3 linked regions of the Homo sapiens genome follow. The protein of the gene in region 3 purifies or fractionates together with the protein of the main gene of each other region. This does not show direct contact. Each region holds a gene or a part of one and is shown on either strand. Other genes may lie near its edges.

Region 1 (3,652 bases), on a different chromosome or scaffold from region 3:
ATTTCACAGGATAGCTCCACGTCAAACCAGCAGGCACCATCAGAATACGCGACAGAGGATCCAATCAGACACTCTATAGGACGGGCGTTTGGTCGTAAGGTAGAGAAACGATATCCAGAAGAGGGCAACATTTATCATCACGTGGGGACAGGCAACCAGCAATTTCCTAGGGTGGTTTTGGTCTGTTTTTCCTGTCACAATTTGGGGAGGAAGGAAACCAAAGGAAACAAAATAGACCAGCCACTCTGAAGCAATCAGAATCAAACCTATTGCCAAACCATGTAAACAGTCACACTGCCGGGAACAAGGGCCTGGGCAGAAACCCTAGCCAGGATCTACTTCCGTCTAAGGAAGGAAAAGTGCACTCTGGTTGTTCTGGTTCAAGGAACAGCTTTGTTATTGGCCGGGGACAACTCACACAGAAAGGAGGTGTCAACAAGGGGCAGCGATGGCCATGTGGCCAGTCCCAGAGGGACAGCAGGACACTGGCAGATCAATCTCAGGGAGGTCAGGAGGGCTTGGACCTGACAGCAAAGTCCCTTCTCTCGGCTCCCCTGGGCAGCTTTGGATATGTGGGGAATGTTCTATGTGGCTGCTCAGAGGAGAGGAGACCCCAGAGAACCGGGGAAGTTGACATGAAATGTCAGCATTAGCTCTGCACAGCAGAAAATCAGCTAGGCAACACCTCGGCTCACCCCTTTCTGCCTTTCCTCCTGGCCGCCACCCCGACTCCCAGCCCAGCAGGGGCTAACCCCATGGTTGTGAGCCAGCCACTCTTCTTTCTGGGTTTCTCAGGAGAGTGAGGCATTTGCACTAGTGTGGAACCATCTGGATGTGTGAAAAGTTAGGAATAGAAAGACTGAGAGGAAGAACCATTACCCGAGTCCTCGTGTTTTTCCATTAGCTGTGGACATGCACTGAATGCCACATCACGACCAGGTCACGAGAAGTCCTCCACATTCGTGCCTCCTGAATGACAGAGAAATATACCCAACAAGGCACTCCAAGGGACTCCAACAGAGAAGAAAGCCCCACATAAAGGCCCCTTCCCACACTGGTTCCTCTTTGTGTACCACAAACCGGTTTTAAATGTTTATAAGGCAGATCTCTGAACTGCTGGTTCCAGCCGATAGCCAAAATATGGCTCAATTTCCCTGTGTCTCTTCCCACTCCGATTTCTTCATTGAATAGAAACCTTTCATCCCTTGGGAATCCATCTCTCTCCTGACCCCTGGCCTGGTGACTTCAGAGAAAAGACTCCAAAGTCTAATTCCCAAGCTCGCAATTCCCTCCGATTGTGCACTCTGTCCGGGGTTCAAAAGGCGCTTCGAGGTGAGAAATCGTTAGCACTGAAACAAGGAAAGGCAAGAATTTTTCATAGAATCCCACAGCTCAGAGCAGCTCTTTAAGAGGAAAAGGGAATAAAAGGGGACGGGGAGAGTGGGGTAGGAAGCACAGCTTGTTCTCAATTTTATCCAAAAAGCTCTTTAGTGGCAGCTGAGCCACAAGGCCCAGGAAACTAGACCAGGAATTAATTGTCTTTGGTCAGTTTTAAATGAACAACTTGCTGGTTCATTCCTAGAATAGACTGAACGTCGGTTACACATAAAGACAAAAGGCTTGACCTCAGGATAAGTCGAAGGTTAAGAAAAGAAATCATTCCATGAAGCAAAGAAAAAAAAATGCCCGTTGTCAACTAACTGATCAGTACGGCTTTCAATAATGGTGATGAACAAGTAGGTAAACACCACTTCCCCTTGTACAATTGGTTATATTGAAGACTACTAACTAGGTTACTACATTTCCCCCACACTCACTGTACAGTTAGGTATTTGTTTTTACATTGATCTATCTACTAGGTGCAAAGATTTGGTGAGTGGCATTGGCTAAAATTTAATTGTAGCCTTTTTAAAAATTACAATTTCACATTTTAACAGTTACTTTCCAGCATTTAAGCAAATACAGCAATATATAGTGGACTAAAACAGGCAGGAGTCAGAAAGAGAAAGCCAATGTTCAGTGAACGTCGATGGGACTGAGTGCTGTGGAGGGTGAGTGAGACATGCATAGTGCCAGATGAGGAAGTGGGAACAGGGGAGGGGGGCGGGAAAGTATTTTTCCACTTGGCCTGCGTCAAGGCTCAGATCTGGGGCTGGATGAGTGGGGAGACGTCTGCCATCTGTGTGTGTACATCCCTAAATGTGAACTCATCAGCCATTTCCCAATGGAAAAAAAAAAAAAAGGTGCTTAAAGAAAACAGCTAAGACTCTGCCCTCAGAAAATTCAGTGAAAGGCAGGTCCATTTTCAGTAAGAAAAAAACAAAATCAGTCAATTCAGAGAAAAATCCACACGGTCTGATTGGTGTTATGTATATCAGGCAACAGATTTTTCTACTCTGATTGTTGCTTTTCATCTGGCAGTTGTGGCAGATTGCTATATTTTGCCTGGGAGGCTACTGGATTTAGGATCTGGGAGTATCTTGAGGGTAGAAATCAGAAGTCTTGTGTCCTGGCTGGACAGTATAGCATCCAGCATGCAAACACATGACTTTAAGAGCCTGACGCAGCCTCTGCTCCTAGCCAGTGTCAAATCTTGGGCAGGTCACAGCACAGCCCAAGGCCTTACTCTCTTAAGCTGTAAAATGGCAATATCTTTCTGTGCTCCAAGCAGATGGCCTTTCATATCCAGGAGCTAAAGAGAAGGGTTCATTCTAGGCCAAACAAGGGAGGTCAAGTTTGACACTGGCCTCTCCCTGAGATCCCTTTTTTTGTTCCTCTCCTGATGCTCCCTTCCACTGTGGGGTGTCAAGTCCAGTCCTTCAGACGAGGTAGTGGCTTTACCCTCCTAACTTATCTAGGTGCCAGTGACTTAACTAGGTCCCTCCCTTTGGGTGTATTTACCTTTTCGCGGGGGACCAGAGGAGAGGGCACCACTTCATCCAATGGGCTGAAATGTTAATGATGGAATCCAGGGCTCTTATTAGGATGGCAGGAAAATTCCACTGCTCACTTCTGAAATGCCATTGGGAGGTTTCAAAAAGAAGGGCTGGAGGGCTCTGATCTAAGACTTACCTTACTAATGATAATCACAAACGCATTGTATTGATTCAGTGTTTTCCAGTGTACACAGCTTGCTCACTGATGTTTGACCTTTATTACCCTATTTTATGGAGCAGAACAGTCAGGCTCAATGAGGTGGAGTGACAAACCCTAAGTCAGAAGGCTCCTAAGTGCTCAGGGCTGGGACTCAGACTCTGGGCCTTTTGACTCCAAACTTCAGTGGCCTCGAGAGAGAGGAAGCGTGGGAACAGTAGGGAAAAGCCCCTGGGTCTCGCAGGAGAGGGTAAGTAACAGCGGCCCACAGGGCACACAGATTTGCCCGTGTGCCATTATCCAGAAACAGCTCATCTCTGGAAGTGATCAGAAGAGGAGGTAAAATGGAATCGAAGGAGAGCGACCCGGAAGGGCTTTACTTGGCCAAGAGGCAAAGGCCTGGCTGTCACACGTGAAGATCATGCACCCATTTCTATCACCACATTTTCATCTACACTAAATGTTCTGGAGGGAGTGGGTGAAGGGGGAGGGAAGGGAAGCTATGTCACTTGTATTAACTCAACTGACAGTGTCCTCTAGGACAGAAAGTGCCAAGGAC
Region 2 (3,652 bases), on a different chromosome or scaffold from region 3:
CAGGATGGTCTAGATCTCCTGACCTCATGATCCACCCACCTCAACCTCCTAAAGTGCTGGGATTACAGGCGTGAGCCGCTGCGCCCAGCCAAAAGTCTTTAATTCTTTAATAAAATTCTTACAAAGGTGACATTTACATTTCTAGATACATTTCTATTTACAGTCCAATAATCACTCATTCTAAAGAAATGAGTTTTGTCAATAATGTTTCAGTAGCAGATTCCCTGATAAAAACTCAGTAGATATTTACTCATTTGGTAAACTCCCACAATTTATTAAGACTTACTTGCAAATAAATACTACCTTTAAATTGATAATCAAATTAGTGGCAACTAATAAATGTTTCAATCATATTGAGGAATTCAAAAAGTGACTAAGGCTAATTTCCCACTTTTCAGAGGTAAGTCTTTGAATAACTATGTACAACATAAACACAGAATTTAGGCAGCTGGAAATATTAATTAAATACTTTATCAAACAGCTGAAAGACTTACCATCATAGTCTCTACACCGTTTCTTTGGCATGGGTGGTCTTACGTAAGAGTTATGGTCCACTTGGTCTTCATGAAATTCAGACCAACTTTCGGTAGTGTTGTTTCCATGATGAGTAGGAGCAATTACTGTAATAGTGCTGCTCAAAGTAGGTACAGGGTAGTGGCCAGATGAAATACTAGGTACCGAAGAGACTGGAGTATAATTATTTTCTAATGGATCTGTTCTATCCAGGTCATATTTAGGTTTTACCAGATCCCTTTCTGCAACGAAAGATAAATGACATATAAAACTACACTGTATTAAAAAAAAAAAAGTCCCAGATCTAAGAAATAGTGATATTTTTATAAACATAGAAAAAAAATTTTAAATTTTGCATAATAATCATTTTCTTTTAAAAAATATTCAATTAATATACAATGTTAAAAGGTAAGCGATTTCTTTTTAATATAACCCAAACTACAAAACCAGGTAATGCTGCCATATTTAATGTTTTTCCTTAGAGTTTTGTTTATAGAAAAAAGGAATTTTATATTTTCTTCATCACAATCTTGGTATGCATAATTACAGACCACAAAACAAAACATGCAATAAAGTATGGTTATTTTTCCTGTGATGAACATTTTGTAGTCATCCATTTAAAGTTACTACAATGGCTGTTATATTAAGATAAGAACGGATGACCCAGAAAGAGTTCATATTAAACATGCACAAAGAAATTAACTAGACTATACATATGGTCCTCAGGAAACAGAAAAGAAATTAAAGAGATTAGTTAAGTGAAGTAACATTCCATGAAGCCTTGTATACCTAGATCACAGCAGGGGAAAATTTCTAAGAAAAGAGTAACAGAATACAGGGCTTATACAAAGGCCATAAATAGTATTAAGAGTAGCAAAAAAAGTTTGAGAAAAGGTGCTTTACTGAAAAGTGTTTTAGGTGTTTTACGACAACATCTTACTTTCAATAACATGTACTAGAAGAAAATTATACATGTTGGGAATGACACGCTCTTGCAAAAATATATATCTGAAATAAAACTTTTTAAACTTTTAAAAATAGTTTTGAAGTATAACTGATATATAATAAACTGAACATATTTAAACTGTATAAGTTTTAATCAAGATATAACACCTCTGAAACCAATACCACAAATAAATGATGTACATATTCATCACTTCCAAAAGAATCCTCATGCCCCTTTGTAATCTGTAATCTATCATCCCTCCTTTACTCCATTTCAGGCAACGACTGGCTTTGCTCTCTGTCATCACAGATTAGTTTGCATTTTTAAAAACTAGTCTGGGCACAGTGGCTCAGGCCTATAATCCCAGCACTTTGGGAGGCTGAGGCGGGTGGATCACCTGAGGTCAGGAATTCGAGACCAGTCTGGCCAACCTGGTGAAACCCCCAACGTGACTCTACCAAAAATACAAAAATTAGCCGAGCATGGTGGCACTTGCCTGTAATCCCAGCTACTTGGGAGGCTGAGGCATGATCATCGCTTGAACTCAGGAGGCGGAGGTTGCAATGAGCTGAAACAGCACCACTGCACTCCAGCCTGGGCGACAGAGCAATACTCTGTCACAAAAACAAAGATTAAGAAAAAAAATTTTTTAACATACATATGTATTGTCCTGCTTCTTTCACTCAGCATAATTATACTGAGATTCATCCATTTTGTTGCATGTATCAATAGTTCTTTTCTTTTTATCCATGTTATGGTATGGATATACCACAACATGTTTATACATTCACCTCTTGATGGACATTTAGGCTGTTTCTAGATCTGGCTCTTACAAATAAGTCTGCTATGAACCTTTGTGAACAAACACCTGTGTGGACATACACTTTCATTTCTTCCAGGTAAACAGTAAGAAGTAGAATAGCGGACCCATATGCTAAGTGTAGTTTTAATATTTTTACATACTGCCAAAATGTTTTCCAAAGAGTTTCAGCTTATCTACTTTCTCACCAACATGGAATAGAATCAGTCTGTATCATCGTGGCTATCCTGTTGAATGTGTAGTGGTAACTGTGATTTTAATTTGCAAGGAATAAAACTTTTAAAGGAATTTTTAAAAAGCATTCTCTTGGACCACAGAATACATCATAATAGAAAAAAATGAAGACAACACTGACAAAATGTTAAGCAATTTTTAAAAACATTTAAACATGGAGTTTTTCATAAAAAGATAACCAAAATATATTATTTACCCCTGCTTCGTGTTCTGCTTCTGCTTCTAGTCCTGCTTCTATCTCTGTCCCTCTCACGAAGCCTCTCTTTACTCCAACTTCGACTTCGACTCCTGCTATAACTGCGACTCCGCCCTCGTCTTCTATTGTACCGGTCTCTGTATGAATCTCTTCGAGGAGGGTTTCGATCATAATCTCTTTTGCGAGAACGATCATCTTTTTTCCTCTCATCACGGCTTCTAAAGAAATATGTGATCACTTTAATACAAATAATTTTTAAGTGACACAGGAAAAAGCTAATTAAATGCAAAAGTTACATTTAATTCTTGTAACTTAACTTTCTATCCTACCATCAGACAACTGAAAAAACTGAGCTTAATATTCAGTACTTTAAATCCCTTTTAAATGAAAAACAATCTTTTTAAAGCCTTAACCCTTAGTCTTATTACACATTGGCAACTATACAATTAGGCATCTGTAGATAAAGGCATCTGTATATAAGACTTAGAGTACATATAGAACATACTATCCCGTACATATAATCTCACTTACAGACATGTATCACATGCATTGTATTCTAAGTGCTTTTGAAGCCTGAATGAGAAAAACAATTTAATCACACTAAATGGAAACAGCAGGCAAAAAAAAAACACCCACACATTAAGATTCTACTGGAATCTGAAGTTAGGAATAAAAAGATAAGCAGCTAATATATGTCAAGCACTGTTCTAAACTCACTCCCAAGATCTACAAATCTGACCTAGATTTTCATGGTAGAAACGGACCTAGTTATATTTTCCTAGACCAATAAAAGAGTAGATATTACTTGCCTCTGCGTAAAAGATAACCCAAGTCTAAACATTTGTATAAAAGATAACTTACATCGAAACACTGAGTATGGTTCAATGAACTGCTCACCTATTTTCCCTGTATCGGGAGCTTGACTGGGGAGGACTGTGATTTA
Region 3 (3,652 bases):
CGGGGTTTCACCATGTTGGCCAGCATGGTCTCAATCTCTTGACCTTGTGATCCACCCGCCTCGGCCTCCCAAAGTGCTGGGATTACAGGTGTGAACCACCGTGCCCAGCCCATCTTTTTTGAGAGACAGAGTCTCACACTGCCACCCAGGCTGGAGTGCAGTGGCATGATCTTGGCTCACTGCAACCTCTGCCAAAACCAACTTCTACCCAGTTTCTGAGTATTATAAGTTCAGGCTGATGGCTATATATAATCCATGTTTTGAATTTTTACAATCGTCCTATTTCCCTAATGATTTTATTTTATTTTTTATTTTTATAATAAGACTGAGTCTTGCTATATTGCCCAGGCTGGTCTCAAACTCCTAGGTTCAAGCCATCTTCCTGCCTCAACATCCCAAAGCACTGGGCTTACAGGTGTGAGCCATCACATCTAGCCCCAAATGATCTGTAATTTTTTTTCTTTGTTTTTTTGAGACCGAGTCTCACTCTGTCACCCAGGCTGGAGTACAGTGGCATGATCTCGGCTCACTGCAACCTCTGCCCCCCCGGGCTCAAACGATTCTCCTGCCTCAGCTTCCTGAGTAGCTGGGATTACAGGCACCCACCACCACGCCTGGCTAATTTTTGTATTTTTAGTAGAGACAGGGGTTTCACCATGTTGGCCAGGCTAGTCTTGAACTCCTGACCTCAGGTGATCCACCCGCCTTGGCCTCCTAAAATGCTGGGATTACAGGTGTGAGCCACCACACCCGGCCAGTTTTTTGTATTTTGAATAGAGACAGGGTTTCACCATGTTGACCAGGCTGGCTTGGAACTCCTGACCTCAGGTGATCTGCCCACCTTGGCCCCTCAAAGTGCTGGGATTACAGGCATGAGCTACTGCTCAGGGCCTTAAAGATTTTTTTTTCCATTAAAATGAGCTGTGTAGCTGGGCATGGTGGTGTGTGCCTGTAGTCCCAGCACTTTGGGAGGCTGAGGCAGGAGGACTGCTTGAAGCTAGGAGTTCAAGACCAGCTTAGGCAACAAAGCGAGACTCCATCCTAAAGAAAAAAAGCTATTGGCTGGGCATGGTGGCTCGCGCCTGCAATCCTAGCACTTTAGGAGGCTGAAGCAGGAGGATCACTTGAGGCCAGGAGTTTGAGACCAGCCCAGGCAACATAGTGAGACCTTGTCTCTACAAAAAAAAAAAAAAAAAAAATTAGCCAGGTGTGATGGGGCACACCTGTAGTCCCAGCTACATGGGAGGCTGAGGTGGGAGGATTGCCTGAGCCCAAGAGTTCAAGGCTACAGTGAGCTACGATCATATCATGGTATTCCAGCATGGACAACCAAGTGAGACCCTGCCTTTGAAAAACAAAACAAAACAAAGCTGGGGCAATATCCTTTGAGGACATGAACACGGAATGGGACTGCTGCGAGTCCCAACTCTCCTGCATGACCTTACGGTACACCCAGCAAGAAAGGGCCAGCACCACAATAGTCAGGCCCAAGCTTGCAATGGCACCACCTTCCACTCAGGGCCCCCAGAACCTGAAGCTCCAGCCAAGTATTCTGTGAGTCCCTGAGGTAGCTGAATCATTTCAGGGCAATGATGACCCCTAGACCTGGAGAGCTGTGCAGGTCACCAGCCTTCAAGGTACAACTGGCTTTAAGCTGGATCTTTTGGGAAGCTTACCCCCTAGAGTCACAGTCTATCATGTTGTCAAAGTAGGTTTTCACAGACTACTTCTGCAGAGAGACTCCCAACCTCCTAGACCACGAGGCAATGCTGTTATTCTCTCCAGCCCCAGCCATCCCTCTCTATAGCGCCACCAACTGTACTTCTAAACAACCCACAGGCCTAGTGTCTCCCATTTTCAAAATCTCTTTCCAAGGCATACTGTTCCACTGAGGGGGCTGAGCCCCGAGGGAAGAAAAAAGGCCTACCAATGGCTGATTCCTACTCTCCTCAGCATCAGGCTCTGGATTCTACAGAAAAGGTTTCTAGGCCAGGCAGCAAATTTCCTAAATGCACCAGGTCTCTTAAAGGTTGGCCTGATAGCTGTAGATTGGATTCTTTCTCATAGAGAAAGATGCTTGGAACACAGGCAGGACTCAACCCACATAGAAACCACCTGCAAAAGAGGAGCTTCCACAACTCTGAGTCCTAGAAACATAATTCCTGACACAAATTCCATGATAGTAAGCTAGTAGAAATCCACTTACTTTCTTTTGGAGCAGGAATTTTGGAGTTGACGGATCTCCGTTTTTGTTTCTGAAAAACAAATCAAATTGTCACAATATATGGCTCTTATCAATTCTCAAGGGCCCATCCTGGGCCCATGTACTATGCTAAAATGCCAGACAATCAATCAGCAAAGAGTCAATAAGCAAAGTGAATTCTCTGGCGCACTGGCTGCAGCCAGATGACAGGCACCTACCTGGATTGTTACATTTTCCTGCAAGGGCAGATTGTCCTTCGGATGTAAGGGAAGAAGCTGTAAGAGTTCTGGGTTTATTGCAGCCACATCATCAAAATCAATCTGCAAGGAGCAAGTAAAAGTTTCAATGAAACAACATTGTTCAATCCAAATACATTTTTTCTTTTTTTTTTTTTTTGAGACAGAGTATCGCTCTGTCGCCCAGGCTGGAGGGCAGTGGTGCGATCTTGGTTCAATGCAACCTCTGCCTCCTGGGTCCAAGCAATTCTCCTGCCTCAGCCTCCTGAGTAGCTGGGACTACAGGCATGCGCCACCACGCCCAGCTAATTTTTGTATTTCCAGTAGAGACAGGGTTTCACCATGTTGGCCAGGATGGTCTCAAACTCCTGGCCTCAGGTGATCTCCCCACCTCGGCCTCCTAAAGTGCTGGGATTACAGGTGTGAGCCACTGTGCCTGGCCCCCCCGAGGCTGAGGCGGGAGAATTGCTGGAATCCAGGAGGCGGAGGTTGCATTGAGCTGAGATTGAGCCACTGCCCTCCAGCCTGGGCAACAGAGCAAGACTCTGTCTCAAAAAACAAAAAACAAACAAACAAACAAAAAAACAACATAGAAAAAATTAAATTTCTATAGACAGGGGTACCCCTAAATTCAAACTTTACCAACTTTAAGTTCCACTAAGTATGAATAGCTATAAAACAAATAGTTACTCCTTAATAATGGTTTACCATCTAGATGGATATGGGTTTCTGATTTCCAAGCCAATGGTAGACGTCAGTGATGAGAATGAGGTGAAGAGGAGGGCAGACAGGCAGGCAAACAGTCGGGTACTCCACAGCAGATCTAGGCCACTTGGCTCCCCTGCTGATCTGCTGGGCAGTGAGGTCCTGCTGGGCACAGCCCCCCAAGCACCTCTTGATGGCTGACACGGAGGAGGAAACAAGTTCTAACTGTCTGGTGAGAGTCAAATGGGGGCCCTTTAGGATCTTATGGGCAGGGGCAAGTTCCTGACAGCTGCTACCTAACCCTAAGACTACCTACATTTTCTTCTGGGCCCAGAAACTTCCCCAGTTACGGCTTCCTGCCCATGCCTTACCTATTTCCTGTTGATGCCTGCAATGAGGTCACAATTCTAAGTTTACATCATCAGAGTCCTGCAATTCTCCAGGAACAACTCAAACTTCACCAGGATAGCTTTACAACAGGTTCAGACATATTAAATTTGTCCCAACT

The links.
Region 1: the proteins of KIF2C (region 3) and SRGAP3 purify together in Homo sapiens (affinity purification with mass spectrometry; one large-scale study listed by BioGRID and IntAct). This does not show direct contact.
Region 2: the proteins of KIF2C (region 3) and RBM26 purify together in Homo sapiens (affinity purification with mass spectrometry; one large-scale study listed by BioGRID and IntAct). This does not show direct contact.

What each region holds. Positions count from the first base shown.
Region 1 is NC_000003.12:8,980,614-8,984,265, forward strand, and holds part of SRGAP3 (SLIT-ROBO Rho GTPase-activating protein 3), read right to left. Parts: 3' UTR 1-3,652. UniProt on the Homo sapiens protein: GTPase-activating protein for RAC1 and perhaps Cdc42, but not for RhoA small GTPase. May attenuate RAC1 signaling in neurons.
Region 2 is NC_000013.11:79,368,236-79,371,887, forward strand, and holds part of RBM26 (RNA-binding protein 26), read right to left. Parts: coding exon 3,607-3,652; intron 2,928-3,606; coding exon 2,710-2,927; intron 756-2,709; coding exon 495-755; intron 1-494. UniProt on the Homo sapiens protein: May be involved in the turnover of nuclear polyadenylated (pA+) RNA.
Region 3 is NC_000001.11:44,746,255-44,749,906, reverse strand, and holds part of KIF2C (kinesin-like protein KIF2C), read right to left. Parts: intron 3,514-3,652; exon of another isoform or gene 3,151-3,513; coding exon of another isoform or gene 3,148-3,150; intron 2,524-3,147; coding exon 2,422-2,523; intron 2,256-2,421; coding exon 2,207-2,255; intron 1-2,206. UniProt on the Homo sapiens protein: In complex with KIF18B, constitutes the major microtubule plus-end depolymerizing activity in mitotic cells. Regulates the turnover of microtubules at the kinetochore and functions in chromosome segregation during mitosis.